Linked DNA regions of Homo sapiens. The protein of the gene in region 3 interacts with the protein of the main gene of each other region in a pairwise test. Each region holds a gene or a part of one and is shown on either strand. Other genes may lie near its edges.

Region 1 (7,029 bases), on a different chromosome or scaffold from region 3:
TTTCTCTCAGTATTCACAATATTTAAAATGTGGCTTCTTAGAACAATTTCAGATTTCACATAAAAGTTTCCCCAAATGGCTTCTTCAGACCCTGTAAGGGATCTGTGGACATACTCTGTGAGTCGTGTGTGTCCTTTACAGTTTTTAGTTCAGCGATTTCATTACGATTGAAAATATTTAGGATTTTCTAGATGCCAACCTTGAGACTGAGTCATTTACATTTACTGCCTAGATTTATTGTTTTGATTGTGTTGGCATTGGTTAATTTGTCACTTAGAGGGATAATATTACTTTGTAATGCAGTTTTTCCTCTTATGCAGGTCCACTGGCAGAGTCTTGAAGGTACATCTCTATGCCAGTTGAGATGAATTTAGTATTTTGACATATTTTAAAGCATTATGAGTGGAATTTGAGTTTTGTCCAAACAGATCTGCCTAAGCTTAAAGCTTATCTCTGGTTATTTAATGAATAATCCATTACATCTACATTTCTGTTCTTTTCGCACATTAAGGACAGCGACAGTCCTGAGTTTCCTTTTTCCCTCTTGGTTTTTGGCTGCATGCCAAAAAGGTGGCACCATCATGGCAGATTGGAGGCATCTGTCATTTTCTAGGTTCTCACCTGCAATGGAAATCTCCTAGAGTTAGTGCTTTGTTTACTAGATGTTAGAGTATGCTAGCACCTGCTGATAAATTTTCTTCAGGGGCTGTTAGGTAATACTGTTAAAAATAAAGTTAGTTAAAAACACCTTTCCACCACTAGAATGAATTTGTAATATTTCTGTGTTTGTGGTTTGTGTTTCAGATTAACTTCATCTACCTTGCCAAGAGCACAAAAAAAACCATGCTAACTTTAACTTTGGTATGTGCAATTACATTCCTCCTTGTTTGCAGTGGAACATTTTTTCCATATAGCTCCAATCCTGCTAATCCGAAGCCAAAGAGAGTGTTTCTTCAGGTGAGCAGTTTTGCATGAGGTATTTGAGATCTGGAAAGGAAGCCCTGTGTGTTTTGAGCTTCAGTAGTGAATAGCAAGCGCAGCTGACTTTTCTGCTGTTGACCTATTTAGTCATACTCACCTTTTTTGTGTGTAAGGCAGTGAGGAGAAGACTGACTGTCAAGAGGCATTCTTATCAGCTAGACATATATCTCCCAGGAGACTGAATTGGAAATGTTTGCTTGTTTTTATTACTATTCAAATTATAAAACTGCATCTATTTGGAAAAACAGGAGCAAATATTTATTATGGAATAATGAGTTTTTAGAAATATAGATTGTAAAAATGTATACAGGCTGAGTAAAATCTAAACTGTCAACTGGCAAAATAAAATTGATGTTTAGAAGTGCTAGTAAAATTAATCTTAAGTAACATTCAAAGTGATATGTGATAGTGAAACTATAACTTAGAAAGGGTTTAATAAAGTGAGTTTTAGGACTTACTTTCTTTTCTCTTTTTTTAAAATGGAGTCTTGGTCTGTTGCCCAGGCTGGAGTGCAGTGGAACGATCTTGGCTCACTGCAACCTCTGCCCCCTCGGTTCAAGTGATTCTCCTGCCTCAGACTCCCAAGTAGCTGGTATTACAGGCGCTCGCCACCACGCCTGGCTAATTTTTGTATTTTTAGTGGAGACAGGGTTTCACTACGTTGGCCAGGCTGTTCTTGAATTCCTGACCTCAGGTGATCCACCCACCTCGGCCTCCCAAAGTGCTTGGGATTACAGGTGTGAGCCACCACACCTGGCCAGTTTGAGGACTTATTTTAGATCTCAACTTTTTCTTCAAATTTTTTAGACCTGGTACTATAAAGCAGTAAGCCTCAATTCTAGTCATCTCTGTTAGAGATGGCTAAATTGTTAGTTTTTCTAAATTGTTTTTAAAAGTTCTCATACTACACAAATTATCTTATGCCTTATACCCATCCCTTTCTCATGTTTGTGAACACATACTAACATATTGTATATTTTGCATAATTCTTATTTGTATTTTATACTCTGTAAGTGAAAGATCCTGCTTCAAGATAACATATACCCTTAAGGGCAAGAGTCACATCTAACCTAATCTAGCCAAACAGAAATGCCAGAGGAATTATACCTAGATAATTATTCAAGGACTTAAAAAATTAAAAACACTTAGGAGGTTTTGAAAAGGGGCCAAATAACAATTCCTTGTTATAGTCCTGAAGGACACTGTGATAAATTTTATGTGAGATTTTACAATTTGTAAAACCTTTAGTGAAGAACGGATTTTTTTTTAGGAGGTTCAGTGTGTTTTTCATGATGTATTAAGTTTTATAATTATGTCAGTAATACTTAGGAAAAGCAGGATTTTTATTTTTAAAAAGTCATTTTCTGATTTGTTTGGGGGTTCTCTTCCACTGTGCCAGAAGTTGGCAAACTTTTCCTGTAAAGGACAAGATAATATTTTGGGCTTTGTCAGCAATACAGTCTGTTGCAGTGAAACAGAGCGAAAGCAGCAACAGAGTATACCCAAACAAATGAGTGTGGCCATGTTCAAATAATGGTTCGTATATAAAAACAGTCAGTGGACAGTTTGCCCTGTTGGCTGCAGTTTGCCGGCTCCTGCCCTATGCAGTGTTTTTTTTTGTTTGTTTTTTTCCTGATTGGTATTCTTCAGGCTGGTTTCTGCCGTGAATAAAGTTATTTCAAATGGAGCACGGTGCCTTTTCATAGAATTCTGTTAGGCACAAGGCTGTCATCTAGTGGTGAGCTGCAATTCCCACTTTTCTCTGCACATGAATTAGCTTCATAAAACACTAATAGGGAAATGAGTGTGTATGTATATATGTGCTTAGGATGTATTTGTTTTAAATCCTTATCTAAAAGCAGCTCTAACATTAACGTCTTTTAAGTCTGAAATAGTAAGTTTCAAAAACATTTTATAGGAATCCTAAATATATTTGGAAGATACAATAAAACAATAATCTATATATCTATTTTCCAGTTTAAAATAAAGAACGCTAGCAGTACCTTAGAAACTCTCAGTGTCTTATTCACTTGCTCCATATCCACATCATTTCTTGGTATTGTCATACTCCATTTTTGTAATCTGGGGTGGGAATGTGGGTGTACTAGTTGAAACAGTTTTTTCACTAGTCTTTTTTTTTCAGCATATGACTAGAACATTCCATGACTTGGAAGGAAATGCAGTTAAACGGGACTCTGGAATATGGATCAATGGGTTTGATTATACTGGAATTTCTCACATAACCCCTCACATTCCTGAGATCAATGATAGTATCCGAGCTCACTGTGAGGAGAATGCACCTCTTTGTGGTTTTCCTTGGTATCTTCCAGTGCACTTTCTGATCAGGTTGGTTCATTATTTTTCTGCTTAAGGTTAGTTTGTTCTCAAGTCTTGTCACCATATCAGTACTCTTATCATTTAAACTGCCATCCTTTAATATACAAGTTCAGTGGTGTTTGTACTATTTTTTCTATCATTATGAAACTTTTTTTTTTTTTTTAGTGGAATAAAGCACTCAGAAGAGTAGTTTTGTTTTTTCAAATTTTAAAAATCTTTTCTCTAGAAACCTGAGTGGTTAGAAAAGGTGGCCCTTCTAACTAATATAATAGCCAATAAGCATCTATCTCAAAAATTGTGGCCGGGCACGGTGGCTCATGCCTGTAATCCCAGCACTTTGGGAGGCCGAGGCGGGTGGATCACCTGAGGTCGGGAGTTCGAGACCAGCCTGACAAACCTGGAGAAACCGTGTCTCTACTAAAAATATAAAATTAGCCGGGCATGGTGGTGCATGCCTGTAATCCCAGGTACTCGGGAGGCTGAGGCAGGGGAATTGCTTGAACCCGGGAGGTGGAGGTTGCGGTGAGCCGATATCGCGCCATTTCACTCCAGCCTGGGCAACAACAGCAAAACTCTGTCTCTCAAAGAAAAAAAAAAATTGTTTTCTCTGGGAAGATTTTATAGCTTGGCAGTGAAGGACTGGATGAGAAGAAATAGGATGGGTGGTGGAATCAAGATCACCTAGGTTACTCCTTTGTTCTTAACATTGGGAAGGTTTTATTACAAAATAACCTAAATTTGTTGGAGTTGGCATTGCTTATCATGTCTGTCAGTTTATTTTCATACCCAAAAATGTGTTCATATATGCTGAACAGTTCTGTGAGTTACAGATAGCCATCAAATAATAAAGCACCCTAAAACTGAAGCTTCCTTTCTAAATAGGAAAAACTGGTATCTTCCTGCCCCAGAAGTTTCTCCAAGAAATCCTCCTCATTTCCGACTCATATCCAAAGAACAGACACCTTGGGATTCTATAAAATTGACTTTTGAAGCAACAGGTAAGTCATATAATAGTTTTTTCTCCCCTCCTTTATTTCTTAAACTTGTTAATAAGTGGCATGTATGTTTTTCCCTCAGATATATCACAGGAACCAGCAACTTAGGAAGAGCCTGTGATGTTTCTAAAATCAATTGAAGCTGGTTATGACTTCTTTTTTTTTTTTTTTTGAGATGGAGTCTCGCTCTGTCGCCCAGGCTAGAGTGCAGTGGTACGATCTCGGCTCACTGCAACCTCCGCCTCCTGGGTTCAAGTGATTCTCCTGCCTCAGCCTCCTGAGTATTTGGGATTACAGGTGTGTGCCACCATGCCTGGCTAATTTTTGTATTTTTAGTAGAGACAGGGTTTCACCATGTTGGTCAGGCTGGTCTTGAACTCCTGACCTCATGGTCTGCCTGCCTCGGCCTCCCAAAGTGCTGGGATTACAGGTATGAGCCACCACGCCCGGCCAAAGCTGGTTATGACTTCTTAACAAAAATTTAATAGGCCAGGCATGGTGGCTTATGCTTGCTACTCAGGAGGCTGAGGTAGGAGGATTGCTTGAGCCCAGGAGTTCAAGACCAGCCAGGGCAACATAGTGACATCCCGTCTCTACAAAATTAAAAAAAAAAAAATTAGCTGGGCATGTTGGTGCATGCCTGTAGTCTTAGCTACTTGAGAACTTGAGAGGCTGAGCTGGGAGAATCACTTGAGCCCAGGAGGTCAAGGCTGATAGCACCACTGCATTCCAACCTGGGTGACAGAGCAAGACCCTGTCTCAAAAATAAAAATTATTTTTATTTTTTGGAGCAATGTTAAGTTTACAGAAAAATTAAGTAGAAATTATAGAGTTCTCATATCCTGCCCCCCGATTTTCCTCTATTAATGTCTTGCATTAGTATGGTGCATTTGTTAAAACTGATGCACCAGTTTTAACACTGATATATTATTATTAATCGAAGCCTGTTGTTCCCACTCGGGTTCATTCTTCGTGTTGTGTAGTTCTATGGGTATTGAAAAATGTGTGATGCCATGTATCTACCATTACAGTATCATACAGAATAGATTTACCATCTAGAAATGCCCTGTGCTTCACCTATTTATCTCTCTTTTCTTCCCACTCTCCTTAGCAACCATTGGTCTTTTTATTATCTCTGTAGCTTTGCCTTTTCCAGGTATCATATAGCTGGAAGCACAGAGTATGTAGCCTTTTTCGACTGACTTCTTTCACTTAGAAGTATGCATTTAAGGGATCCTCCATATCTTTTTGTGACTTGATAGGCCATTTCTTTTTATTGCTGAATAGTCCGTTGTGTAGATGTACAGCAGTTATCCATATTTGAATAAGGCTGCTATAAAGATTCCTGGGCAGGTTTTTGAACTCATTTGGGTAAATGCTTAGGAGTGTGATTGCTGGATATTATATATGGTAAGCCTATGTTTAGCTTTGTAAGAAACTGCCAAACTGTTCTTTCCATTGACTGATTTCTCTGTTCTTTTGCCCATACCACAACTGTCATGATCACTGTAATTATATAGTTAAGTTTTGAAGTTGGGTAGTATCAGTCTTCCAACTCTTCTTCTCCAGAATTGTGTTTTGTCTTTTGCCTTTCCATGTAAACTTTAGAATCAGTTTGTCAATATTCACAAAATAACTTGTTGGAGTTCTGATTGGGATTGTATTGAGTCTGTAGATCAAGGTGGGAAGAAATGATATTTTAACAATAATGGCTTTTCCTATCCGTGTTGGAATATCCCTCCATTTATTTTTATCTTGTTTGATTTCTTTCATCAGTTCTGTAGTTTTCCTTATAGAATCCTTATATATATTTTGTTAGATTTATTTTTAAGTAGTTATTTTTGGGGGTGCTAATGTATTAATAAATGGTATTGTTCATTGATGGTCTACAGGAAAGCAACTGAGTTTCAGATTATTACCCTCATATCCTGCAGCCTTGCTATAATCACTTATTAGATCTAGGAGATTTGTTTTTGTTTTTGTTTTTGTTTTTGTTTGGTTTATTCTTTAAGAAGATTTTCTTTTCTTTTTCTTTTTCTTTTTTGAGACAGTCTCACTCTGTCACCTAGGCTGGAGTGCAGTGGTACGATCTCGGCTCACGGCAACCTCTGCCTCCTGGGTTCAAGTGATTCTCCCGCCTCAGCCTCCCAAGTAGCTGGGAATACAGGCACCCGCCACCACACCTGGCTAATTTTTGTAATTTTAGTAGAGACAGGGTTTCACCACGTTGGCCAGGCTGGTCTCAAACTCCTGACCTTGTGATCCGCCTGCCTCAGCCTCTCAAAGTGCTGGGATTACAGGCGTGAGCCACCGCGCCCAGCCTATTCTTTTAAGATTCTATGAATAGACAATCTTATCATCTGCAGACAGTTTTATTTCCTCCTTCCTAATATCTATAATTTTTATTTCCACTTCTTGACTTGTTACATTATCTGGGACTTCTAGTTTGATTTTGACAAGGCGTTGTGAGAGGGGACATCTTTGCCTTGTTCCTGATCTAGGCAAGCTTCTGGTTTCTTACCACTGAGTATGTTGTTAGCTATACGTTTTTTGGTAGATGTTTTTTATGAGACTGAGGAAGTTCCCTCTATTCCTAGCTTACTGAGAGTTTTTATCATGAATAGGTCTTGGATTTTGTCAGTTGCTTTTCCTGCATATATTGATATGGGCATGTGATTTTTCTTTCTTAGCCTTTTGATGTAATAGATGACATTAA
Region 2 (7,508 bases), on a different chromosome or scaffold from region 3:
TAAAGATGGAGTACCTTTTCAAAGGCACTAGAGGTCCTCAGTTGACTATGAGTATGCTGTACATCCAGGCTTCATTTTCATGTGTTTATTTGGTAACACATGCTTCAGAATTACTCTGGGTAAGAACTTTGAAATTGTACAAAGAGACTACTTGATTCTAGGGAACCTAGAATAAAGTATCGAAATGTGATTTTTGTGAAAGTTTTGAGGAGATGTTAACTTGGATTTTAGGTATCAGATGAATTGAAGGCATGAGTATTTTAGCAATGAAACAAATAAAAGGAAACTTTGATTGATTGGGGTGTGTTATTTTTTTTAAAGTCTGTGCAGTTAGTTTGAATTTTGCCTTCCAGGAGGTATTGCTTAATAACTAAGGGCATCTGTAATTTTCGTATATTTCTGGTTTTGAAAATGATCAGTAGAATATAATTTAGACTATTAAGAATGTAATGCTATGCATAAATTGAATTTAAATGGAGTGGAATGGCTTTTAATTAAAATAGAAGTTTGTATTCTCTGAATTTGCCTTTTGCCTTTTAGAATATCATTTACAGTATTTGGGGGCTTTCAAATTTTGTTTGTCAGTGTCATGGTTTACTTTAAGCCATGCTGATCAGTATATAGAGGATGTGCATGTGGCTTAGTGACAAAACCTAAACTTCTGCCAAGGTTTCCCTGTTTTCTTAGTTCTGTGATCTTGAGCAGTTCACCTTTTTGCATCTTTCCTAAATTGTAGAATAGGGATGCAGTATCAAATATATAATTAAGAGGACCAAATGAAATATTTGTGTACACGAGTATATTAGGAAATTGCTCTTTAAGAATAAAAAAGAAGTGTTCATTGGCCCTCCTCATTTCTGGGATTGGTAATATATTGTCTAATTTGGAGAGGTAACTAGACTTTAGGTTTTTTAATTAAAAATTTAATATATTACATAATTTAGTGTACATGTGTAATGAGTACATTAAAACATTAAAATACATTAAAATTTTCTGAAACTATTGTATTTATGCAATATTTTATTATTTCTTAATCTCACTAATTAAAGATATGATTATATACCCAAATGTGATCATTTTCCTTTATGCCTACTAAAATACAAATAAAATGGATTTGATATTTGAGTTTTAGGAAATGATAGTGCTGTCACGCCTTTTAGTAAAGCAAGTACTCTGGCTCTTTCATGCGTTTTTAAAACTTAATGCTTCTTAATTTAAACATCTTTCATATTTTTTCCATTTGATTTCATCTAACACTTTTTTTAGCACTTACTTTGAAACCACATGTCTTCATAAACAAAGATAATACTTAACTTGCACCTTAAGGTATAGATGAACTAGTTGGGACACAATGTATGGTACTACCACATTATATTTGAAATTTTAGCAGTCTCTGTAACTGTAATTTCTGTTAACTGAGACATACTAGTGAGCTAAGGGTAAGTTTAATATAATTTCTGCTCTATCCAGAAGTATGTGTACTTTTTAGAGTAATATGTGATATAGCAAAATTCTGATACAATAAAATAACTCGTGAACACCCAATTTGAAGTGTGAGAATGTAATTTGATAGATATTTGAATAAAAATGCACAAATAACATAAGACACCTACACTGAATGACTTTTATGTACTATCAAAGGAAAAATATGAGTATAGAGATATGGAGACACAATTAGGATACCTCAGTGGTAGACAAAAATTATGTTTTTTTATGTCTTAAGGAAAGCTGCTTACAGAGTTACAAAGTTCTTATTTGTAGTGAGCAATAGAATTAACATTTGTCATAGGAATTGAGAATTTTAGAGATAAATTTTATTTTAACATATATATGAAATATGAAAATCAAAATAAATAAAATATATGTAATTTTCTGTATGCCCTGACAGAGATCTAAGAATGAGGAAACGTTTCATTTACTAAATTGAGGATTGTAACATAAAGAATAGGGTAGAATTCAAACAGAAGTCATAAAATTGATTGTGGCATCTCCATTCCTGGCATTTATTTTATTTTTTCCTTTCTTTCTAAATCCGAGAGAGGAAATGGAGTACCACTGGAGGATAATAACTTGACAAAACTATAGGCATTAATAGGCAGAAATCCATTTAATCAAATTTGTGTGAAAATAAGATAGTTAAGAATATTCGTGTGTCAAAATAACTTTTTAAAGTATCAAATTATTCTCTAACGTCAGATTTTTTGTGTTTGTGAACATTGTTTTAAAATTTCTAAACTTCTTTATGATACAATATTGAATTTAATATCAGTAACTCAATTTATTAATAGCATGGAATTTTTTTAGAAATGTTTGTTAAAAGTTGACTGGACTTTAGAGGGGAAACATCCTCAAGGGCACTTTAAAAGTAGCTTGTATTATATATTCTGAAACTCCATTTCATTATTCACTGTATGAAATTATGATAATATTGGAATAGGCATGCTGATAATGTGCATGTTGTAGTCAAATGACTATTCATATTAGTTCAGATGTAAATAGCTCAGTTCTGCACTGTTTCTCAGCAGAGCAATAAATAACAAAATTAAGTCATTGTTTTTGCATGGAGAAATTAACCACTACTACCAAATATGGTAACATAATTGGAAGATTTTTTAATTGGCAGAAATTCACATTTGAAAAGCAAAATAAAAGTGAAAGATAAATTTAAATGACAAACCAGTAACCAGGATCAAAGATGAATATGACCTTTTTCATTTCAAAGTTGTCTCATTTTTCCTGTCACTAAATGGATAAGCATTTATAAATTTAAGCACTTTGTCATGTCATTTTATTGCCTAAGATTGAACTGATATTCATAAAATTAACTCATTTTAAAAGTTCAGATTATAGAAATTATAGGAATTAAGAATTATAGAAAGTAAGAATTACCAAAGTCAGCGAAATCTGTTTCTTACCTTGGCAGCTGTGATCATCACAGTATAGAGTATTGTGTTGTATGAAGTCTTACGGGTGTTTAGCTGGGGAGTTTTCTGACTCTGTCACCCAGTTTATGGGAACAGTTGCAGTAGGTGGAGGAGAAAAAGTGTTCTAGGGAGGTCTTATGATGTCACATAGGAATTCTGAAGTTTCGATTGGTTAGCCACAGTCTCAGTCTTATCACAACCAAACTTTAGAACTTCTTACTTTAGGTATGGAAAAGTCATTAACACTTTGTGCTTCATCTTTTGTTTTTAATTTAAAACAGTATATGGTAGATAAATGAAAAAAATAAGTAAACTTGAGGTGGTGGAAAGCTTTTGTTAAAGATTCATGCATCTTCAGGCTTAGAGATAATTGAATATTAATGGTGAAGATGTTGAAGAGCTAAAATAGTTACTGCAGGAATTTTAATTATGAGAAAAATAAACACAGGTATAAGCAAAACAACTTTCATTGAATTCTTGCTGCTGTTGCTTTAATACGTGTCTTCATAATGTTAGCTTTTAGTGAAAGTGAAATATTTTTACACAATAAAATTTTATACCTGTTTTCTTATTTTGTTCTTGTTCTTGTGTGTATGGGAGAAGGAGTATGAGAAAATCAGGCTAATTGCTTTTTGTTTTAAAAAATTATTTTTATCTTACAGTTAAAGAACTAATAAATGTATTTAATTCATTTGTGTTTTCTTCAATTAGCAGTTTAACAATATATTTGTGAATAGTAATACTTATATTTAAACTGATACATACAACACCCCCAAAATAGCAATATGCTACTTTAAGTATTTAAGATTTTTTAAAAACAATTGCATTAAATTATTACACAATCTTACCAAATTTTTAATAAACTGATGCAGTATTAAGGGCAACTTTATGGCAAAAAAGAAATAATTACAGATTCCAAATCAGTTACATCTCAGTTAATGAGGCTTTATAGGTTTGATGTGTTGAAATTTAAGTTTTGTAATGTTTTTGAAAGGATGTGCCTCATTTAATCTAGCAGTTGCTTTCCTGAAAATTACTATAAAAATGAGATGCTAGTAAGTGAGATGATATTTTGAACTTCCTAGAACAGTTTATCTTACAGTAGAACTGGGGAAATAATTTTTTTGTAAAGCCGGGCATCATTCTCCTCTTCTCTGTTTATCTAATTTGTTGTCTTAGATGTTAGATTTACTTAAGTCACCACACTCGAAAATATTAATTCTTAAATCTCTTCTTTAATTTTAGAGGAGGTACTTGTAATTTTTAATTTTTTAAATGCTTATGACAGAGTGAACTTAGCCCACTTCACTTTCTTATGGGTAACTAAAATGTGTAGCAGCAGCTGCTTACATGCCCTTAAATGGAAATGATCTTGGCTTCTTCCAAAGAAAGAAAATCCATCTCTAGAGCAAATCATTTGATATTTAAAGAGTCAGCTTAAAACTAACTGAAAAATAATATTTTAGCAAAGATATCCTGTGAACATTGCCAAGGGAAAATTTACAACTTAAAAGTAAAACCCAAGTTAAGGAAATTGCAGAATAATGTTTGATACTTTTCTCAGTGCTACAACCATTTTTCTTTCAATCCTTACATAATGAGGATCTCTCAGTACTATCAGTTACCAATGATGATTGATAATACAAAACCGAGAAGCCTAACGAGGTTTACAGTAATTTGTCAGAGATAACCAGCTGCTAAAGAATAGACAGGATTCAAATCCAGATCTGTCTGTTTATAATTCCTAATCTGTTGGCATGCTGTGGGAAAAAATTATAATTTGAATATAGCTTTCATTAGAGTAGCATATAGTAACTGAGAAATTTTTAAGATGTAAATAGATGCATTCTTGAGCACTGTTAATAGTTTTAGAAAGTCTGCTTTAAGTTTGTCTACCAGTTACACATTCATTTGAAATTTAGGTGATAGATCATTGTTCTGAGAACTTCTCATTCTAAGAAAATAGAATTAGTAATACTTAGTTGGATAAACCAAGAAGCTGCCGTAGACAGAATAAAATATGCCCTAGTTACCACATGTTTATAAGTTTACTTAAAAAGTATACATAGGCATATACACACCTTAGAAGGATACTAACAACTGTGTGTGACACAGTTGGAAAATGGATTCAAAAATTTACTTTTTAGATTGGTACAAGAGTGGGGAGTTTTTGTGTTTACCTTGTTCCTTTGGGTTAGCTAGTGAAGATGACGATGATGGTGATGATCTCATGTGGAACTCTAGGAAGTATTAGATTTTAGTTTTAACTGAACATTGTTTTTAATTGCCCAAACAGAAAGTTGTTTAATAGGAGTATTAATGAGTTATAGTGTTATCAGTAGAGTGTTCCTCAATGATTCCTCAGCTAGAGGCTAGAAAATTTTTTTGAGGTGCTTTGTCACAGTCTTCATTTGGAGTTACACTATAGTTTGAATGTATTTTTGGTCACATGGCTTTATACAAATAACTTTCCTAAGCAGCCTAATCTGTGGAATAGTATTTGTGATGGTTTAATGACATGAAGTGTACATAGTGATTATCAGAGATCCTGCAACAGTGTTCATTTAGTGTTAGCACTTATTTTCTTTTTTCCTTTAGAAGGTGGATTCTTAAGGGTAAAGTGTCTTTGAACTTGGATGGGAAAATAATTACAAATTTATTTTTACTAAGCTCTAAATGAAATTTAGTATTCAGTTTCAACTGAATCATGAGTTCATGTCTTTACTTTTGTTTTTATATAGTTTTGTAGCATTTTAAATGTGTTCCTCAAAAGTATTACTAATTTTTTTTGGAAGGGGGTGCGGAGTCTCACTCTGTTACTCAGCCCCGAGTGAATGGTGCGATCTCAGCTCACTGCAACCTCTCCCTCTCGGGTTCAAGCGATTCTCCTGCCTCAGCCTCCCAAGTAGCTGAGACTACAGGCGTGTGCCACCACGCCCAGCTAACTTTTGTATTTTTAGTAGAGATGGGGTTTCACCATATTGCCCAGGCTGGTCTCAAACTCCTGACCTCGTGATCTGCCCACCTCGGCCTCCCAAAGTGCTGGGATTACAGGCGTGAGCCACCGCGCCCAGCTATATTACTAACGTTTTGTGAAGGGCACTGTGATGTATGTAGTAATCTTTTACATTGAGCATTTAAACTCCAGTCTGTAGTGGTGTATCCGGAGGGCGAAGAAGCTTCAAAATAGAATCGGTTTTTGGAAATTTTTGACCAGAAGTTAATATAAGTGATGACTAAATTAAAGCATTTTAATATTTAGACAGAGATACAGTAAAATGCAAGCTTTGAATCAATTTTTGTAATGTTCACAATACATCAAAGATAAGGAGCTTTTTTTAGATTAGATCTCCTAGACACCCAGGAAGAAGATTTTACCTATCTCTTGAGGGTACTTGAGGGTTTGATAATTACTGCCTTAAATTTTAAAGCTACGTAGGGAAGGACTGGTTCAAAAAACATCTAAGCAAAACTGCGAATAAGAATTAGTGGTCTGAGATTGAGAGGATGGAAATTCTCTCCATAGGGCAATAGGGAAAAGAAAATAAGATTTACTCATCAACTGGAGTTGGGGGGCTGTTGATATAACCCAGTGATAAAGTAACCTATAAAGCTTAGGGGTCATTTGGGGGAGGTAGGTTCACTTTTCACTTGATTTGCCAGATAACCTGGAGACCCAAACATTTTATTTTTTCATAAATATCTGAATTCTGGGCAAATTCTCTTTCCTCATCTTGATGAGGGGTGGAGAAGAGCATTGACATTAAGAGAGGCCAGATGGATTAAGAAAAGGACTCATATAGGTCTACATAAATTTTGGAAAGTTATTAAACATTCTAAGTGATAGAAATGCTATAGCATGCTACGTGGCTTCAAGGAAATTATGGTTTATCAGTATACAAATAATATGGAAATGAAAATTTAACATTTAGAAGGTAACCACTAGTGCAAGATAACACCAGGAGAAAAAGAAATTCCCAATTGAGAGTCAAATGAGCACGTGTAATAATAAGCAGTATGACTTCTAAGAGAAGTGCATGTTTTGTACAAAGGAAACGGACAGAACCAAAGCCAAAAATAACAAAGGGAAACACATACATCACAAAACAAATTTAACAACAAAAACCAACCCTTAGGTCTCCAAATACTTGCTTCAAAATTCTATAGGGTCCCGATCATGATGCTGTTACATTGTTAAGAAGGTTCTATTTCAATTTAATGATTGTAGTATTTCTCCAGACATATTAAATTTCTTATCTTTGTGGTTGATATCTCAGCCCTTTGAGCTCCTCGCATTCGCAAACTTTGTGGTGGCACTATCACTGATTTTGATACAAAATTGAAATTGGAGGCTCATACCTTTTCTGTCTTCTGCCAGACTCCCCATTCACTTAGAAACCAAATGCAGATTGTGAAATATGTCTTTGTTCTCATAGCCTGACCAACTCTCCTCTTAACTTTCATAGACGTTTATTAACTAGTTTTTCTACCCTTCGTTGTGACTCTTTCCTACTCAGTTTTTACTCTGATATCCAAGTGCACATTTGATTGTCATTCACATGCTGAGAACTTTTTATTGATTTC
Region 3 (7,029 bases):
TTTCTAGGAGATGAGAGTGAAGTAACGTTTGAGGATATGGACAATGTTTTCTTTCACAATGAAAATGAAATAAGATGAATGATGTTTTTATTGCCAGGAGTAACTGTATCTGTTGGGTTCCTTAGCCAGACAAATGTTAACAACCCTTATACTTTGACTTCATTTTGTTTGGATCTTTAAACAGAAAGATTGGAACCATCAGATTGTTTCAGATTAAAAGGCTGAAGACACAGGAGTTGTATAACTGAAGTAGGAAGGAGGACTCCTTTCTTTCCCCACTTTGATCAGCTCATATTCTTCTTCACAAACCCTCCACTATTCCCCATTGCCTCCTTATTACATCCTGATGGATGTGCTGAGATATACTGATCCTCTCAGCTTTGGGGGCAGCAGGAGCCTCTTAGCTTGTCATAGGGGTGGGTCAGGAGGGCTATTTGGCCTAGAGCTGTACATTCAGGGAAGGCCTGGATTTTAAAATTTCATCATATCTATGACATAGGCAATATGTTTGCTTGTATGTTTAAAGTATTTATTAGGTAATTCTAAATATTTAAAAGCAACCAAAATTTTTGTGACTCTGTTTTGGCATTTTCTTTCTTTTTTAATATACTAACAGCCTTAAAAAAAAAGTGGAGAAGGCCCAGGCATTTAACCTCTGAGGTGCCCCCATAGTCAGTTGCACAGGCTTTCATAATATGGTAATGGTCATAGAGGCTATTGAGGAGGACAGACCTTCAATAACTAATCATGCAAAGAAGTCACTAATGTGAGGACTGGGTGCCTTGAAAGGGTGTAATAGGGACCCTCCCCTATTTGGGCCATCAGGAAGGATTTCTCCAAGCAGGTGATCTCCTACCCCTAGAGGGGATCAATGTTAGACAACAGAGGTGATAAATCTCAATTACCAATTGTTTTTTAAGGAAAGAGCCAAACTCTAGGATGATGTTCATATTTTGGGTTTGGGCAAAGGGGTGAATTGGCAGTGTTGTTAACCAAACTAGGTAACCAGGGATTCTTTTAGGATAACTAAAATTATTTTCTGGCAGTAGGTGGGTTGATAAGATGATTAGTTCAGTTTTGGGGTATTTTGAGTGTGAGTGGCCTTTGAGACATCAGAGTAGAGATGTTTTGCAAATATATGATCTTGTGTTATGAGAAGAGCTTAGTAACTCCTTGTAAATTTAGAACCTCATAGTATGTAAGGCAGTGGATAGCCAGTGGGGAATAGAAAGAAGAATGGATATATGGCCTCTGCTTTCAAGGAGTTTATTCTCTAATTGCAGTCAAGGAGTTCAATAACCACAGATTATCCCAGTAACCCTCTAAGACAACAGCAAGAGAAGTGTCTTGGGCACTACATCAATGATTGCCAAATGAATTGTATCAATGTTTCTTGATTTTCTATATCCATCTTAGTATCTAAGTAAAATTGTTCATTTGGTTTTACTTTTGTTTTACTCTGGTAGTTAGAGGTAGGTTGAAGATAGCATGAGCTTATTTAACAGTACTGTGGGTTATTTGCTTTGGAGTAATTCATTTTAAATTTATGATGTAGGTACTGTTATTTGTCCCATTTTACAGAAGAGAAAACTGCGGCACTGAGGGGTTAAGTAACTTGCCCAAAGTTATGTAACTAACAAATTATAAAGTTGGTATTCGGACTTAGATAATCCAAATTCAAAGCCCCTTCCCCTAATTTTTAATCCTATTTTTTTAACTAAATATGTTCCCTATCATTTAAGTTATTTGAAAACCTTATTTTCAGTGGCTGCGTAATTTATTTGACATTCTCCTAGTGCTTGTATTTCCATTTATATTTGCAAGATAAATCCCTGCAAGTGGGCTTCCTGTACTAAGAAATATAAAATGTTTAAGACTTCTTAAACCAAATACAACCCATTTTCAGAAAAGTTCAAAAAATTTGCAGTCTGTATATACTTTTCAATCCCATATAGAAGTTTTCTCGATCCCATATGATTGCCTAAACCAAAACAGAACTCAGCAACACTGTGATAAAGGTGGTGGTTAAGATAATAAATCAAAGACTTTTAGGGCAGGAAAGAACTCCAGGTTTCATCTAGGCTTGCCTCCTTCTTTTATTAATTAAGATCCAAGGCTTAGAAAGGTTAAGAAACATGACGCAAACACACCATTACAGGTATAGTTAGGACAAGGACCTGCACATAGCACTATGTGATATATTGAGTCTGAGACTCTTGGATGGTTTGGACGATTCAATGGTGTCCTGAAATGACTGCCTGGGGTCACCACTGAGATATAAGAGACTTTTAGTGTTTGGGTCAGCTTCCAGGTTTCCCCCTGAGTTTCACAGTTGTATCAGAGGGATGGAAGTAACTCAAAAGGGTCTGTCCTGAACTGAGCAGCCCATTATCACCTAGAGATAAAATAAATCTGCTGGGCCAGGGGAAATCCTGAAATCTCCTTTCATGAGTTTCCTTGGACCTGGCCTAGTGTCAGATCCACAAGGGTGATTCTGGACTCTCTTTTCATTATTCTGTTGATGGTATGATATGTTTCAACAAAGGGCTACTCACGTAATTAAAAACTCACATAATTCTTTTTTTTTTTTTTAATAGCAGGGACCAAAAATGGAGGGTATTACTGTTTATTAACCAGAAGTGACTCCACTATGTGGCAATAATGTAAACAAAGTTTGCAATTTGATTTGGCTTGATATCTGGCTAGGTGGGGCTAAGGTGTTTTAACAGTAAATCTCAAAGTTTCATTGCCTTAGCACAATAAGGGATTGTTTCTTACAAAATCTGAAGCAGGCTGGTTGATCACCTTCTGGGTTGCAGATATGCCACACCAAGGTTGCCCAGGCAAGATAAGAGAGAGGTAAAGGAGTTGTGTAGACTGCTAACTGACCCTGCTTGGAAAGTGACATGTGCTAGTTCAACTTATAGTGTATTAGCCAGAACTAAAAACATGGGCCCAATCTAACTGGAGGGAGAGGCTGGGAAAGAGTGGGGAGCAGCACACAGATATTTGATGAACACTAATTGTTTCTTCCATACACTTGATGCTTGATATTTTGAAATTATCAACCTAAAAGAATGTGTAGGCAATTTCACATCATTTCAAGTTTTAAACATAAAGATAAAACTTTCATATCACTTTCCTTCAGATAGGCCTGAAGGGCCACTGTATGGCGAAGTATATACTGTGGATGTGAAGAAATCCTTTTCATTTCTGTGTTAAAAATAATGGAACTTTTGCTTAATATTTGTGAGATTTGGGCAAGTGGTCTAACCTCTCTAAATGAGGATCCCTAAAGAAAAAGGGGTAACAGTGCTTCATTCATGGGTATGTTGCATAAATTAGGTTGAAGACTGAACATAAAACACTTGACACAGTGCAGAGTACATGGTAAGTATTCAACAAATGTGAGTTTTTATTTTGTTTTTATTGGTATTATGATATTGTACTGGTATTTACTAGTATGCACAGTAATGTAGGATCCTCAGAATCATCCTCAGTGATGTATCCATAATAATCAGAAGACAGTGTACTTTATGGAAACAAGTGATGTTTTGTCCAGATTCTGGCAATGAAATGTCTTTTACTTTCTGTGTGTTCTTATATTTGTAGATCATGGGGAATTTCAGAGGTCATGCCCTCCCTGGAACCTTCTTTTTTATTATTGGTCTTTGGTGGTGTACAAAGAGTATTCTGAAGTATATCTGCAAAAAGCAAAAGCGAACCTGCTATCTTGGTTCCAAAACATTATTCTATCGATTGGAAATTTTGGAGGGAATTACAATAGTTGGCATGGCTTTAACTGGTGAGTGGACCATTCTGTGTTCTATTTTTACCTTTTAGGTGTTTTCATTCTTTTAAAGAATTGGTTGGAGCTTCTGAAATAATTTTATATCAATTGTTCTGATCTCTGAAAGAATAAACCCTATCAAAAACCATTTTGCAAATGATATGAAATTAATCAAGTTATTATGGAAAAGCTTCAGTAATAAATAATTTCTGATAGGCTGTAGAAGACTTTAGCCTTCTGCACTCATCTTTTTTTCTTGGTTCCTAAATTGGAGAAAGAGATTAGGCCAGATGACTTCTAAGGCCTTTCCACTGAATCTTCCATATGAAGATTCAATGAAAATGTTCTGTGTTCTTGAGAGTTCCACTCTAGCCTCTCCATTATAAAAGATAAAATTTCCAGTTTTCCCATTAGATTTCTTCATGCTTTATTCATGGCAACAGGTCTTTGCTATGGCATCAAATTACACAGTAACATTTCCAAAGAGGGAAATTTCCTTGCCAAATTCTATAGATTAACAAATAAGGCAGTATCTGTAGGAAAGTTTAACTGTTTGCATACCAGACTAGATCGTCTGCTGTATCTGTCTGGGCTTTCTTTTTTCCTTTTTTCTTTTGAGATGGAGTCTCGGTCTATTGGCCAGGCTGGAGTGCAGTGGCATTATCTTGGCTCACTGCAACCTCTGCCTCTGGGGTTCAAGCAGTTGTGCCTCAGCTCCCAAGTAGCTAGGATTACAAGCACCTACCACCACACCCGGCTAATTTTTGTATGTTTAGTAGAGATGGGGTTCCACCATGTTGGCCAGGCTGGTTGCGAACTCCTGACCTCCAGTGATCTGCCTGCCTCGGCCTCCCGAAGTGTTGGGATTATAGGTGTGAGCCACTGTGCCCAGTCCTGTCTGGGCTTTCTCAGTTATCATAATTGGAGAAAAGCTGAACTCTTTAGCATTTTTATCTGGTACCAAGCACAATCCCCTATTTTATGGCAGCTACCCAAAGATGTAGTATTTAAGAAGGAAGTAATCTATCTCCATAGGAGTTGTCTCCCAAATTCAAATCTCCAAATAATTCAGGATGTATCTCAGTCATTAGATTGGAATAGGCAGTGGAACTAAGATCATTGGCATTGAAGATCTGAAATAGCTGTTTGATTCAATTGGCTATCTTTGACTAAAACTATTTATTTGAACCAGCATCTGAACCTCCAAAAGAAGCCTAAAGTGCCAGTGCTCAGCTGTTAGGGAACAGCTCAGAGAGAAGAATTAATGTCAAAAGAGGACATTAGATTGGAATAAGCAATGGACTAGTCCTCCTGCATCTTCTTGAATTCTATGTAAAGCAGAGTTGCTAAAACTGTGATATGTTTCTTGGCAGGCATGGCTGGGGAGCAGTTTATTCCTGGAGGGCCCCATCTGATGTTATATGACTATAAACAAGGTCACTGGAATCAACTCCTGGGCTGGCATCATTTCACCATGTATTTCTTCTTTGGGCTGTTGGGTGTGGCAGATATCTTATGTTTCACCATCAGTTCACTTCCTGTGTCCTTAACCAAGTTAATGTTGTCAAATGCCTTATTTGTGGAGGGTAAGTGTTAGTGAGTATTTTCATGTACCTTTCTCTATTAGTGAGCATTTATGTAGCCCTTCATATTAATATACCTCTGGCATCTTGTTGCAGCCTTGATTGATAGGACCATATATCTGGGCCATAATGAAATATTTGGGTGTCCTAGGCAGGGCGCCAAAAATCTACATGCTGTACTGACTCATTTAGTAGAACTGGGTAAACACAATTGTTCAATTGCTATGTTCACATTTCACATCTGTCTCAAAGGACCACTTACAAAGGTTACTCATCTCTGGGTTGTTCTGAAGATTATCATTTTTTTTCACTTTTAACAAACGAAAACTGATCCCAGAATAATAAAGCATGAATACACTAAAATGAGGCAGCCACTCACAGTGGAACAGCTTCCACTATCTACTAACAGGCTTTTTCATATTGATACAGTAATACTCTGCCATTTGATGATAAGTAGGGTCCAAAAAATGCAGTCACATAAAAAATATGGGGTCCTAATTTTGGAAAGTTAATTAAAAACAATATTTTTTGTTCAGCTGGTCTCCCAGTTACTGTAGGGAGGAAAAAAGAAAACAAGCATTTAATGGTTTTTTTTTTTTCATGTATTACACACGTAAAAAATAGATTGATTATGGAAATAGATAACCACAAATTGATCAGGAGGCAGTCACTTCCTACTCACCTTGCCTCTGGCATCCAAAGATGAGAACTTTTGCCCATACCTCGGGAACAAGGGCTGGATAAAAGATGGATGTCAACAACTAATAGCCCGGTTCTCATTATCTCAGGGGGTTACCGTATTTTTGTATCAATCTTTTCTCTTTGTCTTCATGAAAAAGATGAAGCTGGAATCTGTCTACAGGATGAAGAAATGCAGTTATTTACTACTTCTTGGGAGCTTCCAGAGCATGTTGTTATATCTGTCAAAATCCACCCGTATGTGTTTGCTTCCTCCAGTGGACTGAATTCCTTAAGGCGATGCTTTGACTTATTCATCTGTGTGCTCATCTGAATTATTGCACTTGCCATGCTTACTGTTGTTTGTCCTGCTTAGAAGATGCTTTGAAATATTTTCATCTTATGGAGATTCCAACTTCGTCTTAATCCTTTTCATTTAGATAAAGAGGAAAAGATATTCATTCAAAAATACAGTTAACACCCTGAGATAATGAGAATCCATTCATTGAAAATGTCACAATGTGTTAGAGAGAGAATAAAGGTCAGGGAAAGCAAAAAGAGGGTTCAATTTCAAAGATCCTATTCTAATGAGGTGGTGATGTCTCCAAAAATGCAGTACTGTGGGAATCAGTGGGCGCCTGCTCTTTTGGACAAATGTGTGTATGTGTAAAATTCTGTCTACGGAGAGAGGGAGAGAGAGAAACAGTGGGTGGTCCTTGGTTCCACTGAAAAAGACAATCTGTTTTTTCCCCATCAGCCTTTATCTTCTACAACCACACTCATGGCCGGGAAATGCTGGACATCTTTGTGCACCAGCTGCTGGTTTTGGTCGTCTTTCTGACAGGCCTCGTTGCCTTCCTAGAGTTCCTTGTTCGGAACAATGTACTTCTGGAGCTATTGCGGTCAAGTCTCATTCTGCTTCAGGGGAGCTGGTTCTTTCAGGTGAGTTGGGGCCTCTAGTTAATGTACCTGGACTCT
Region 4 (6,974 bases), on a different chromosome or scaffold from region 3:
CAAGGTTACTGGAAAACAGTATTCCATTTCTTTATTCCTGCCCTCAATTGCTCCCCACCCTCTCCCTAAGGCCCTTTTAGAATGAGCTCAACCTAATACAACAAATCCATCTTCAAATTGCTCCCTAGTCTTTTAAAATCTATACTACAAACATTTAAAAAACAAAATATTCGGGTTTAATGTCAAGAAGGCATATACTGGTTGGATGCAGTGGCTCACACCTGTAATCCCAACACTTTGGAAGGCCAAGGCAAGAGGATCACTTATAGCCAGGAGTTTGGGACCAGTCTGGACAACACAGTGAGACCTCACCTCTATTTTTATATTAAAAATTTTTTAAAAGAGGTGTCTATTTCTCAGATGAATTTTCAGTTTAATAAATTATTTAGCAAACACTCCAAAATGTGTTATTTCTAACTCTTCTCCATTCTCTTGAACTTCCTATTTTCATGTTCTTTTTAACCACCAAACAAACCTTTACAAATTGCCCTTGTTTAGCTTAGTCACTGAGCAAACTCTTTGTCATCTTTCAATTCTTACCTTGGATGCTCCCCTCTCTTGTGTGACACCATCCCTAAACATACCAGAGTGACATAAGTGCTTTTCTCCTTGAGTCCTGTTTATATATGACTTGGATAAAGTCATCATCTTTTTATAATGTAATTGTCTACATGTCCATTTTCATCTGCTATGCTCCTTCACCACACATACACATGTGGTGTATGTGTGTTGGCACTCAAATCACTCAAATATTCGCACATTTCAGAAAATCTAAACCAATCCCTTTGAATTAGATTCAAAGGGATTGTAAATAAAATCTGATAATTTCCTATCACACAGTAAGTGCTTTTTGACATTAGGATAATTTTTGTGATTGGTATTGAATATAAATGTCTATCATAGAAAAATCCAAACTTTATATCAAAGAGCACTTAACCATAAATGGGTATTTATATTGTGAAATTTAAAGATCAGCGCAACAATGAACTTTCAGTTTATTCTATGATTGCTATAGTAAGTCTCAAACTGCATGTTTTCTACAGGAAATAAATCTGATGAAGACAATTAACTGTTGGAACCATTTAAACAAATGTGTTTGTTTCTTAACTTCTTAGAGTCATTAATAATACACTCTAACTATCCCATGTAGAGACAACATTTCTCAACCTTAAATTTGATCACAGGTATCTTTTGAGTGGTAGGGATGCCTACTAATAACAAAGAATAACTACTATTAAGTTAAAAAATATAGTTTAGGAAATGCCTAACCAGAAATTTTCCATTGCCAGAAAATGGCTTCCAAAGTAAATAGAAAAACAAAGACTTTGTTGAAATTTTTAAGATTGATAGTCTATAAAAATTGTAACAGTAAAATCGTGATTTTTTAAAAGTATACAAGAGCCCCTCCCACTCCCTTTATCCTTGGAGATACATTCCAACACCCTCAGTGGATGTTTGAAACCCTGGAAAATACCAAACCCTATATATACTATTTTTTTCCAATTCCTATATACCTATGATAAAGCTTAATGTATAAATTAGGCACCGTAAGAGATTAGGAGGAATACCTAATAATAAAATAGAACAATTATAACAATATATTGTAATAGAACTAAAATAAGGGCACTGTGATACTGCAACAGTCCATCTGATAACTGCAATGGCTCCTAAGTGACTAACAAGAGAGTAATGTCTATTGCATGGATGGATATGCTAGATAAACGGAGGATTCACGTCCCAGGTGGGATGGAGCTGGATGGCATGAGATTTCATCATGCTACTTTGGCATGCAATTTAAAACTTATGAATATTTCTGGAATTTTCTTTTTAATATTTTCGGATTGTTACCGGTGGAAGGTGTCCAGGTTCTTGGTGTTTTGAACAAAGAACTGGAAAAACACACAAGCAAAGCAAGGAAAGAATGAAGCAACAAAAGCAGAGATTTACTGAAAACAAAAGTACGCGCCACAGGGTGGGAACCATCTGAGCATAGGGGCTCAAGGGCCTCCTTACAGAATTTTCTAGGGTTTAAATACCCTCTAGAGGTTTCCCATTGGTTACTTGGTGTACACCTTATGTAAATGTAAATGAAGTACTAGCCCACAATCAGTCTGATTGGTTGTGAAAAACAACCAATTAGAGGCTGAAGCAAAGTTACAAAGTTACACTCCTACGCAAACGTCTGATTGGTTGCAGAAAGCTACCAAGCAGAGATACTTTCAATTTTCTATCTGCCACGCAGAAAAAAAGAGGGGTTTGCAAAGGGCGTAGCTTTGGGTCCTTTTGTTACTTAGGTATGGGAAGTTGGGGTTTTCCTTTTGATTTAGCTCTAGGAAGTCAGCATGAATCGGCCTTAGGTTCCCTGCCTCAATAGGAGACCCTATTCTCCTGCCTCAAGATCATGTTTAACCCTTGGTAACTGAAACTGCCTATTGCATATAAGAACTACTGTATTTTAATTATATTAACTCCTCTAAATTATTTTGGTCTTAAGCTAGAATAACTTTTATGGAGAAAAACATCTATAATTGGTCACTGAAAAAAATAGAAGGGAAAATATTCATCTAAAGGGTCAGTTCACTGACACTACTATTTAATATGCATTTTTTAGCCAGATCTAATAGTCATGAGAAAATCATCCCTGACATCCAGGGACTGACCTGACACAGCTACACCACAGTGTTGGGAGATAGCTTGACATTCACAACTAGGCTATGATTTTCCTATCGAACACCAACTAATCAGAGAGGGTCACTCTGTGACTGTGGTGAAGCAAGGCAAAAAAAAGAAAAAAAAAAAAAAGACCAGTTTATAATTTTGTCTAAGCAGAGACAAAAACAATGCGACTGTGCAAACCACAAAACATTAGCTTTCATTATTAATAATTTTACCCAGTAGTCTGGTAACATTGATACTGGCCAGTCAGCTTGGTGAAATAATCCAAACATTTACCTATGCAGAACAGACTAAGACAAAAATAAAGTAGGCACATAATACATTTCAGCATAAAGACCATATATGTATATTATCTAGTACAGGAAGCCCACTACTATTTAGTCCTACTTCACAGATTTGATTCTTAGTTAACTACTTAATTAGATGTCTTACCAAAGAAAATGACAAGCTGTCTTGGCATGTATTTTGAAATTTAAAATAATGTGAGCTTTTTTAAAGTAACTACTCTTGGGGCTTAAAACACAATTGCATACTGTGTCTGAAATGGATTTGGCTCCTCTTCTTACACTGTCAGCAATTAACTGAAAAAATTGATAAATATTATGTAATTATCAGTTAATTACTGTTAACCCAGGCAAACAAGTTAATTTCACATAAAACATGAAATCAGGCCGGGCGCTGTAGCTCACGCCATTAAACCCAGCACTTTGGGAGGCCGAGGTGGGTGGATCCCCTGAGGTCAAGAGTTCGAGACCAGCCGGGCCAACATGGCAAAACCCCGTCTCTACTAAAAATATAAAAATTAGCCGGGCGTGGTTGTGGCGCCTGTAATCCCAGCTACTCCGGAGGCTGGAGCAGGAGAATCGCTTAGAACCTGGGAGGCGGTGGTTGCAGTGAGCAGAGATCGTGCCACTGCACTCCAGCCTGGGCGGCAGAGAGAGACACTGTCTCGAAAAAAAAAAAAAGAAAAGAAAAGAAATCAGCCACGATTCAGATTTTTAATGCTAACAAGACGTTTTGCTTTCTAAATGCACACACCTTTAATATAAGGGGTGTGAGGACAGATATTTCCACAATCTAAGTGGTGTTATGACAATAATTACGAGAGCTCAGTAATAGAAACTATGTTTAACTTTACCTCGCTAGCAGCCAGGAGTCTAGCACATTATAGGTACTAAACAATGTTGTTTAGTACCTATAATGTGGTTTTGGAGAAGCAGTGCAAACGCAGCCGGCCAGGATGCCAGCAGTGCCTGCCCACGTGAGCTAGGCGACATCCCCCTAAGCGGCTGCGGCGCATGCCCACAGCGGGCGAGGCGCTAGAGGCGGGGGCGCCGGGAGGCGCGGGCTTTGCTCCTGGGGTCTCGGCCTTGGCCGGCTGGACCTGACCCTAGGGCGGCTTGCGCAGCTGTCGGGACGTGACTGCGTTCAGCCGCGTCGGGCGTGCTTCCCAGACTTGCCCAAGTTCGGGTGCCCTAGCTGCCCCTTTGCAGCCGCTGGCCTACCCGGCCCGCGGGTGAGAAGGTTGCGACGGGAGGTGGGTGGAACTCGCCAGCGCCGGGACCGCGGATTGGCTGCCTCGGCTTTCTCTTTTCCCCGTGGGCTCCGGCGTGAGGCGCTGAAGCGGCCGGCAGCCGGCGACCGGCCCTCACCGTCCGCCGGGTTGCGCTCTGCTTTTGCGGTGAGGCGTTGACCACGCCCATATGAATTGGAGCTCTCCGCCAGTAGGAGTTTCCGGAAGGAGTTTGAATTTTTGTGATTTTTATGCTTGTTTGGTCGGTGGAATATGTTGGGATTTATGTTTGCCTCTGAACAAGTGTCTTGCTCACATCGTAAATGACTTTCTCTCCGAAACGCTAAATATTCTTTCCCGCAGGAGCTCATATCCTTATTTTCCATGACAGATCTTAACGACAATATATGCAAAAGATATATAAAGATGATAACTAATATAGTTATACTGAGCCTGATCATTTGCATTTCGTTAGCTTTCTGGATTATATCAATGACTGCAAGCACCTATTATGGTAAGTCTGAGTGTTCTAAGTTGTTTCTCTGTAATCTAGTCAGAGGAAATTAAAACCATACCATTGTGAAATCCAAAACTCATATCCTCTGAATGGTTATGAATGGTTGTGTTTACTTAACTTCCATAGCCTGATTTAACTTACTAACATGATAGTATAAACAATGCCTTTAATAAATGCTTGTTGTGATAATTCGAGTTATACCTATTTCTTTTTTTTTTTAATTTTTATTTTGTATAAGATAGGGGTCCCTCTGTGTTGCTAGGCTGGTCTCAAACCCCTAGGCTCAAGTGATCCTCCCACCTGTGTCTCCCAAAGTGCTGGCAATACAGGCCACCACTTCTGGACTAGTTACACCTATTTCAAAATGTCTTTATATTTTATGTAACTATTCCATCTGTCTTGGTAAAAGATAAGTGAGGCGAATATAGCTTTGTAAAGCAATTACAGTGATGCTTTTAATTTTGAATAAGAATATTAGTAATGGGCCAGGCGCGGTGGCTCACGCCTGTTATCCCAGCACTTTGGGAGGCCGAGGCGGGCAAATAACCTGAGGTCGGGAGTTCAAGACCAGCCTGGCCAACACGGTGAAACCCCAGCTCTACTAAAACTAGAAAAAAGCTGTAATCCCAGCTACTTGGGAGATGGAGGCAGGAGAATCACTTGAACCCTGGAGGCGGAGGTTGCAGTGAACCAAGATTGAGCCACTGCACTCCAGCCTGGGCCACAGAGCGAGAATCCGTCTCAAAAAAAAAAAAGTAGTAATGTAGTTTATCAGTTTCACATGTTCTGTAAAAATAATAAGAATTAAAAACGGTATACTATTTACATTTGGAGAGCTGAAGGACTTATCTGCCATTTGGTTGCTTCAAAAGAATAGACTCCTTTTAAAGCCTAAAGCTACATTGCTTAAATATAAGGTACTCTGGACTCAGATCTTTAAAGTTTTAAAGGTGCTTTAGAGCATAAGCCTCCATTTACACAAACTTCCTTCTCCTATGAAAACAAAATACTGGTCAGTTTGCAACAAAGGAAAAATGAAAAGGAGAATGAGAATGCTTGTATCGTAAGGGATTGCCATTTCAGACTGTAGGCTTTTTGCAAAGAGACATGTGAATAGTTGGAAAGGGTTCTCCAGGCTACAGAAGCTCTCAGTGCAGTTCGTTCATAATGATTCACAGTGGGGCATCAGAGTTTTAGGGGAGGGGTGTAAGAAAAGATTCTTGTTAGTGACAGTATTTACTATGACTTGAACTAAATGGAATAAATCAGGATTTGTAAACTGAAATATCCCTCTGGGGCCAGTCACCTAATGCAAATGAATCTGTGTACGTTTTTGTGTATTAGACCTGTGGTAATAGTTTTCATTTCCAGAAATAGGATATTTCTCATCTTTTGTTGAATGCTTGGGCCCTCTTTGTCTTTCATTTCCCCTTTATTTTTCTGAGACGGAGTTTCGCTCTTTTTGCCCAGGCTGGAGTACAGTGGCACGATCTCAGCTCACTGCAACCTCTGCCTTCTGGTTTCTCCTGCCTCAGCCTCCCAAGTAGCTGGGATTACAGGTGCCTGCCACCATGCCTGGCTAATTTTTGTATTTGTAGTAGAGACAGGGTTTCATCATGTTGGCCAGGCTGGGTCTCGAACTCCTGACCTCAGGATCCTCCTGCCTTGGCCTCCCAAAGTGCTGGGATTACAGGCATGAGCCACTGCGCCCGGCCCATTTTCTCATTTTTGATAGAAACATAGATACAAGCAGTGGTTCACAGTTTTCTTTACCATAAGGAAATCACTTTGCCTTGGCGTTTAGGAGCCTATCAGGAGGGGTGGGAACTTTAAATGGGAAAGCCACGGCCTGTTTAAAGGAGGGCACCTCTCTTTACCTTAAGTCAATTCTGCCATGTTGGCCAGAACTTCCCAATTTTAAAACAGAAGCCAAGAATCTGGATTTTTATATGATATCTCCTAATCTTTAAATATTGACTAAAATTATTTGAAAACACTCTGCTAGCCAAACATCTGTGAGCTGGATGCAGCCTCTGGAATAATCAATTTCTAACCATTGAATGAGGTGTCTGTCCTCTGACAGGCAGAGAGGAGTAAGATCCTGTTACAAAAAGAGTTCGTTCTAGGTAGTCCTTGAAATTTAATACGTGCCCCCTTTAAAAAAAATGAACCAGAGGTTCATTTTAAATATCTAGATATCCATTATTATCATAAATAGCAGTAAAAGGTTTTCAAAACTTGGACATAACCTATTTGGCCATTCTCCAG

Evidence for each region.
Region 1: the proteins of TMEM45A (region 3) and ERMP1 interact in binary tests that used the Homo sapiens proteins (3 or more experiments, as listed by UniProt).
Region 2: the proteins of TMEM45A (region 3) and PLN interact in binary tests that used the Homo sapiens proteins (3 or more experiments, as listed by UniProt).
Region 4: the proteins of TMEM45A (region 3) and TMEM19 interact in binary tests that used the Homo sapiens proteins (3 or more experiments, as listed by UniProt).

The regions. Positions count from the first base shown.
Region 1 is NC_000009.12:5,795,104-5,802,132, reverse strand, and holds part of ERMP1 (endoplasmic reticulum metallopeptidase 1), read left to right. Parts: intron 1-804; coding exon 805-957; intron 958-3,124; coding exon 3,125-3,327; intron 3,328-4,200; coding exon 4,201-4,316; intron 4,317-7,029. UniProt on the Homo sapiens protein: Within the ovary, required for the organization of somatic cells and oocytes into discrete follicular structures.
Region 2 is NC_000006.12:118,543,800-118,551,307, reverse strand, and holds the start of PLN (phospholamban), read right to left. Parts: upstream 3,013-7,508; 5' UTR 2,916-3,012; intron 1-2,915. UniProt on the Homo sapiens protein: Reversibly inhibits the activity of ATP2A2/SERCA2 in cardiac sarcoplasmic reticulum by decreasing the apparent affinity of the ATPase for Ca(2+).
Region 3 is NC_000003.12:100,551,597-100,558,625, forward strand, and holds part of TMEM45A (transmembrane protein 45A), read left to right. Parts: intron 1-2,769; exon of another isoform or gene 2,770-2,859; intron 2,860-3,612; coding exon of another isoform or gene 3,613-3,615; coding exon 3,616-3,805; intron 3,806-5,163; coding exon 5,164-5,376; intron 5,377-6,808; coding exon 6,809-6,993; intron 6,994-7,029.
Region 4 is NC_000012.12:71,682,108-71,689,081, forward strand, and holds the start of TMEM19 (transmembrane protein 19), read left to right. Parts: upstream 1-3,974; 5' UTR 3,975-4,573; coding exon 4,574-4,703; intron 4,704-6,974.